Homo sapiens: one gene and its partner. The protein of the gene in region 1 purifies or fractionates together with the protein of each later gene. This does not show direct contact. Each region holds a gene or a part of one and is shown on either strand. Other genes may lie near its edges.

The links.
Region 2: the proteins of ANKRD44 (region 1) and MTCL1 purify together in Homo sapiens (affinity purification with mass spectrometry; 4 studies listed by BioGRID and IntAct, with this or other methods). This does not show direct contact.

The regions. Positions count from the first base shown.
Region 1 is NC_000002.12:196,989,431-196,992,889, reverse strand, and holds part of ANKRD44 (serine/threonine-protein phosphatase 6 regulatory ankyrin repeat subunit B), read left to right. Parts: intron 1-81; coding exon of another isoform or gene 82-134; exon of another isoform or gene 135-1,743; intron 1,744-1,793; coding exon of another isoform or gene 1,794-1,810; exon of another isoform or gene 1,811-1,962; coding exon of another isoform or gene 1,963-2,210; exon of another isoform or gene 2,211-3,240; coding exon 3,241-3,299; 3' UTR 3,300-3,459. UniProt on the Homo sapiens protein: Putative regulatory subunit of protein phosphatase 6 (PP6) that may be involved in the recognition of phosphoprotein substrates.
Region 2 is NC_000018.10:8,711,997-8,715,646, reverse strand, and holds part of MTCL1 (microtubule cross-linking factor 1), read right to left. Parts: intron 1,506-3,650; exon of another isoform or gene 1,398-1,505; intron 1-1,397. UniProt on the Homo sapiens protein: Microtubule-associated factor involved in the late phase of epithelial polarization and microtubule dynamics regulation.

The DNA of each region.
Region 1 (3,459 bases):
GAATTATGTAATTTTTAAAATGTGGCATTTAATTAAAGTATTATAATGTATTAATGTAACTCAATTAACTGCTTATTACAGGTATTGGAATTAGCAGCTCATGCCTATTTCTCAGAAGTAAGCAGCCATACTGATTATCATTAGCTAACTCTTATTAGTTTTGATTTTGCAGCCCCATGTATCCTAGCATGTACCCTGCTGTGTCCCCCACCTGACTCATCTAGGAAGTGCAGAAAGTTCCCTATTACTCCATTTCCTTGGTTTTCCCGCCTCACCTTCCCTCACCCTCTTAACACTACTGTAGACTTAGGGTTGGCCTGCAGAGGCCCACAGTTTTTCTCCAAAATGGTCAAAGAGAATAGAATAAATTAGTTTTGCTTTTCCTGGTGTAAATCTGCTGCATTGAAGGTTTGTTCAGCTGATAGTGACCTTAGGAACAAGAGCCCTGGGTTGGTGCGCACCTGCATCCCAAAGGCCTGGGAACGTTTGGGGCAATTTTATATAGCAGTACAACCATAATTCCTTTACTCATCACTGACTTTCGTGAAATGGAATGTTAAACTACCTGTTCATTCTTATTTGTTTTCATACCAGAAAAAGGAATGATGTCCTAAAGGGCAGGGTGGGGAGAGCAGGTCGAGTGATGATAAACAAAACAACAAAACGTTAAGTTTCATTGAGCCATTCCTCTGAATTACTGAGCAAGTGCCCTACTCACTGTGTAGTGGAAACTTTGGCCAGCTGAGAAGGCAGCTAACCCTTTTCAGGCCAGTAGGATAAAGGTTGGATAAGGAAATAATCAAGTCAAAGACTTAATCTACCTCCCCAAGGAACCTATATTATGAGTTAAGACAGTTTTCTTATCTGGATTGGATCCATTGAGTCTAAATGAGAATAACATGGTTCTAATTATGACAAGCATAGTAATTTTCTCACATCCATTACATTTTAGATTTGAGACTTTGATTGGTGAGTGGCCATTTTTAAATATTCTGTTAGGCCAGGTGTGATGGCTCACGCCTTTAATCCCAGGACTTTGGGAAGCCAAGGTGGGAGGATCGCTTGAGCCCAGGAGTTTGAGAACAGCCTGGGAAACATAGCAAGACCTTGACTCAAAAAAAAAAAACCAAAAAAAGAAAAAATCAGCCGGTAGTAGTGGCACACACCTATAGTCCCAGCTACTCGGGAGGCTGAGGTGGGAGGATTGCTTGAGCCCGGAAGACAAGGCTGTAGTAAAATCAAGGCCCCATGCCACTACAATCCAGCCTGGGTGACAGAGTGAAACTCTGTCAAAAAAAAAATTTGTTAAATTTCTCCTAAATGATTGTACATTTTTAATCACAAACAACCTGTGCTTTCCTGTCTCTGATCTACTGAAATGATTCCATTTTTCTAAAACCAGTTATTGGTGTCTATTTTCTATGAAGCATATATAAAGTGACAAAACTTCATTACTCACTTTTGCAGTCATCTAATTTTCAATATCTTTTCTAATTGGACACACAATTACCTAACAATGGAAAGTCATTGTTCTCAGAATGAGAGTCCTTCTCAGGCCCAGGCCTGAGGCTCATGGTGTGTGTGTGCTCTCAGGCGGAAACATCCTCCTGATTGTCCTGTTGCTGTTTATTGTGGAATTGTGTCCCACACCCACCCCCTTGTGTTTGTGTTCACTAAATGAAGGCTGGAATCCTGCCTAACTTTGGATGATATTGTGCTTGTCATAGTCATATGAGCTGAAAACAAAAATAAAAAGCCCTCCATAAAATGTCTCCCCCTCCCTCCCCCTCTAGCCTCACCCCTAGCATGACTTGTGAGAAGTAACTCCTCGTTTTACCTGGCATGATTTCTAACTCAACATACATCTCCGCCTGTGAGATCATCCGAGATGTACTGTGGAATGCTCGTGCCTCCTCTAGGCTCCCCAGGACTAACCACTGCCTTGTCTGCATTTACGCCCAGGTCATACCCCGGCCCTGGCTTGCGCTCCTAACAAAGACGTGGCTGACTGCCTGGCCCTCATTTTGGCTACCATGATGCCTTTTTCTCCTTCCAGTACAATGATGGCTGTCAACTTCGTTTGTTTAAAAAAAGACAATTTGAGCAGGACGACCCTCTCCAATCTGGGTAGCATGGTTAGCCTGTGCAGTAACAACGTAGGCTCGGAGGATGGGTACAATGAAAATGATTCTGATTCGGAAACGTTTTGACTTTGGACTGTAGAAGCTTTTCTTTGATCACCTGTGTTGGAGGAAAGGAAAGAAGCTTGAATTCCAGGTTTATGTTGTATTCAAGTATTATTTGGGGCCTGGGCTTCCAGAAGCTAGTAGAGAAGGAATTAATCGAGGGAGGGCAGTGAGGCTGTTGGGTGGAACAGTCACACAGATGGCCCCAGTTTTGTTTTGTTTCACATTTTCTTTAAATCTAAGATACTTCTGTGAAAGTCTACCTCTCATTTTAAATAAAGAATAAAAGATGTATTTAATTCCTGTTCTTTGGGGATAATGCAGCAGAGAGGCAGCTGTTCGCTATGAATAATTTTTCTTTTCATGTATTTAGCAGTGAGTTCTCAGAAGTATATCAGTGTGACATTCATGTCCCCTGGGAGGGAAGGGAAGAGGCAGATAGGAAATGCCTCAAACTTCTTCTCACTTTGATGTTTACTTCCTCACTAGAAGCCAAAGGTAAAGGTGTCCATCTTCAGAAATAATGCCTGTAATAATCTTTTTAGAGAGTCCAACTATTTATATCCTCTCTATAGTAAGCATTTGAATATCCAGAACTTCTTTCTGAGGATCTCTGTTAAAGTTGCCAGATGAATTGAAAAATTGAACTTGCTTTTTTTGTTTAACACAGTGTTCCCTATAACAAGCCTGTGACTAATTTTCACTTAAGTGATTGAACCCAAATTTATCTAATAACATTTCAGGTGAAAATTATATTGCACCAAAACTTTGACACAATATGCAAAAATAGTATGAAACTACCCTTTGTTAATTTATTCTTAAATCAAAATACTAACTTTTAAAAAACATCAGAATCATCAGCATTGTTCATCAGTAGTAAAATGAGCTTCTCAGTCAAGGTCATACCAAGTCAGTGAAAAGTGTGACTGCAAAAAGGAACAAAAAAAGTGAAAGCAGAAAGTAGAAATGGGTGATTTAGCATGTAAAACCGATTGCCAGTTGCTTGATGATGAAATCAACATAGTGAATACTGTGTCTGCTCCCTCTGCCAAAGCTTCTAGGTCAAATGGACCCCGTTCCACACCTGGAACCGCTGTACAAAAAGAAGAATGAGACTCTTTAAAAATTATGCACATACACATGCACACATATATGTGTGCGTGTGTATATATATATATATGTGTGTGTGTGTGTAGTTCATCAGCCAGCTACACATGAGGACCAAAATGCTTCAGTCTAAAATGGAAGATACACATTTTTTTCCTTCAAAATG
Region 2 (3,650 bases), on another chromosome or scaffold:
GATCAGACTTTGAGAAAGAACCTAACCGCAATGCTTGTTTCTGAGTAAAGAGGTTAATTGTTTCACTGAGTCATTAATACAAATCAGTTCAATACAAGCAATAATCACTAAATGTTCAACACTAAGTCAATATCTGTATATGTATATGTACATGTATATCCACACATACAAATATACAGTGACTCTGGCCATTCTGTTCATGGAAAGAATGGTTTGTGATTGCTTTTCTTTCCAGAAAGCCTGCCAAAGTCATTAATGCCTGGGATTATCGGCAACTAAGACAAAAGTTTTTAAAATGCAATATAGCCCTAAGATGCAAGATACAGCTTCCAGGTATAAAATGTCTCTAGCTTTCAGACTTTGCAACTGGAGAGCCCACATCCACCCTAATGTTAAATGCTGCATTTTCATACAGATGTTACAGGCTATGAAAACTGTTCAAGGGCTAGATGCACCCACACCTCCACATCATTGAGCAGACCAGATGTAAATAGCAATATTTTTTGGCACAAATAATCACCAACATTAGTTGTACTGCAAATAAAATTAGGGGCCGGGTGCGGTGGCTCACGCCTGTAATCCCAGCACTTTGGGAGGCCGAGGCGGGCGGATCACAAGGTCAGGAGATCAAGACCATCCTGGCTAACACAGTGAAACCCTGTCTCTACTAAAAATAAAAAAAATTAGCCAGGCGTGGTGGCGGGCACCTGTAGTCCCAGCTACTCGGGAGGCTGAGGCAGAAGAATGGCGTGAACCCGGGAGGTGGAGCTTGCAGTGAGTGGAAATCGCGCCACTGCACTCCAGCCTGGGCGATGGAGTGAGACTCCACCTCAAAAAAAAAAGAGAAAAGAAAATTAGGGAGAGATCATATGATATGGTTTGGCTGTGTCCCCACTCAAATCTCATCTTGAACTGTAGCTCCCATAATCCTCACGTGTCACAGGAGGGACCCAGTGGGAGGTAACTGAATCACGGGGGCGGGTTTCTCCTCTGCTGCTCGTGACAGTGAGTAAGTCTCAAGAGAGATCTAATGGTTTTATAAACGGCAGTTTCCCTGCACACGTTCTTACGTGCCTCCATGTAATATGTGTCTTTGCTCCTCCTTTGTCTTCCACCATGATTGTGAGGCCTCCCCAGCCATGTGGAACTGTGAGTCCATTAAACCCTTTTTTCTTTATAAATTACCCAGTCTAGTGTTTCACAGAAGTATAAAAATGGACCAATGCACCATAACGGCATGTATTTAAATCACTGCTCTTATAATTCATATTTTACCTAAATTTACAGAACAGGCGTCGTTTATTAAGCACCTCACCCTCATTACTAACCCTACAATAACCCTGTCAGGAACACATTATGCAGTTGATAGACAAAAAAACAAAACTGAGGCTAGTTACCTGTGTCCAAAGCTTCACATCTAGTAAATTGAAGCCACACTGCAAACCCAGGCCTGTCTGCTTTCAATCACACACTCTTTCGAGTAAATACCATAAATTATTTGCTTCAACCTGGACAAATGAAACAATAACAGACCTTCAATTGTACTTTTAAAAGTCCACCATCAGTGTAAAACAAAAAAAGCAGCCTAACATTTACAGCTCGACAAGTGACGACACAAAGCATATCCATTAGGGCAACTGGTTCTTAGGAAGACACTGCAACGTGCGGTAAAGATATCCGTGCCCCTTCCCCGCTTTTTTTAAAGAGACAGAGTCTCACTCTGTGACCCAACCTGGAGCGCAGTGGTGCAGCCATGGCTCACTGCCACCTTGAGCTCCTGGGCTCAAGTGATCTTCCTGCCTCAGCCTCCTGAGTAGCTGGGATTACAAGCACATGCCACCATGCCTGGCTAATACTCCCATCTTTAAAACGAGGAAACTGAGATTCTAAAAGTATAAATGGCTTTCCACCATTATTGGTCTGCTGCAGCAATAGGACCAGGGCCAGTGTTTCAACTCTTCCCAGAGAGCCTAGAAAAAAGTAATTTTCAGGTTCAGTGAAAAGAAGTTAAAGACAAGCAAATTATAAACCATGTAAGCTGGCAGCAGCCATCTGAAAAGCAAAAACTATGATTACTGGAATTAGGGTCATGATGGATAGTGATTTTCAAACTAACATTACATTAATTTTCTGACGGCATGCTCCAATTTAGAAAACTGTATTGCAGAACCTTAATGACATCTGCCAACTAAAAATTTAAGTAAACCAAATCGAGCAGAGCATATGATGTTTCTGACAGGTGTAATTTAGAGATAGTACATAAAATTGGAAAATCGCTGTTGTCTTTTTATACACGGAAATAAGAAAAAGCTGTCCTTAATAGTTTTTTACTGAATTAACATCAAGTCTGGAGGATACTTAAGTATTAAATCATTATCTCATTGAAAAGCTAGTTTTAATTAAATACCTTTTTAAAGTTTTGTATATAAAACGAAATCTTGAAGTACTGTGAAGTCCAGTCGACTATTCCCCTTTGCCTGTGGCTGACAAATCAAGCCTTATCATGTATCTCAAATTAGAGGAATAATGAGGTACCAGGTGTGCACTAGAGTAAACCAAGATTAAAATTATATGTTTTAATGAAAACCTCTAAAAGGATAGTTTTATCCATGAATATATAATAAAAGTCAAATCCATGGCTTCTTAGTATAAGTGATGAAAACTCTTAATCATGTTAATAACTATATGAAAATCTTAATCTCTTTTAAATACCCAAAATCAGTAACTATCTCTATTTTAGCACCTCCTCTTTAAATAGACCCAGTTTGGATGGTAGAAGGAGTCCTCTGGCTACTGCTGCAATAATTCTATCTTCTGGGCAGACAGAAACTACTGTCTTTTGTAACATACGAATAATCCACCTCATTTCCCTCCAGACAAGGGAAATGTTCTCCAAGAGTCCCAGCTGTAACTAAGGAGGTGCAGGGCGACTCCCACTGTCTACCAGGTGATGGTCCAGCCAGCAGCTGGTGGCCGCAGCCCTTGTCTACATTAACTGCCACTGAAAATGATCATAGCCACTCTTTCAGTGGCTGAATACAGAGTGGGTATGGACAGCGAATGTCAGGAAAGAATGGGGAATACTGTCCATGTTAACCCTTCTGAAAGAGAAAGGAGGAGGAGGCGGGGAGCAAGGAGGCGCTGAGACACCTCAGCTACAGAGCACTGCTTGCGCTCCTCTCCAAGTGCCCCTCCACCCCCAGGCCACACTGAGCACCCGGCATCTGGGCAGCCCAGCTGCCAAATGTCAAAAACCAGGTCAGGGCCTGAAACTCAAAAGGCTAACTCCAATGAGAAGCAGGATGGTAAGCTTGGATCAGCAGTGAGACACTGCAACCTATAAAACCAAAACTCAACCTCTCCCTTAGGAAATCATTCCTCTCCAAGAAGCCAATTTTCTCTGCCCTTGTATCTAGCACCAACTTGTTTTCTTTTAACAGAAAAATATTTCCTATGAAATAACTGAGAAAGCAAAGCAAAGCAAAAAGAAACAGCTCTTCCCACCCCAATCCTCACCCACCCTGCAGGAGGTCAGCATGGCAAGAGGACACTATTTGGGGGTGGGGGAGGTGTGGGGTTATGGCTGCTAAAAGCATTTTCAAAATAGGCTCATAAATGCCAACTGATTAAATCCTCCTGAAAAGCCTGTG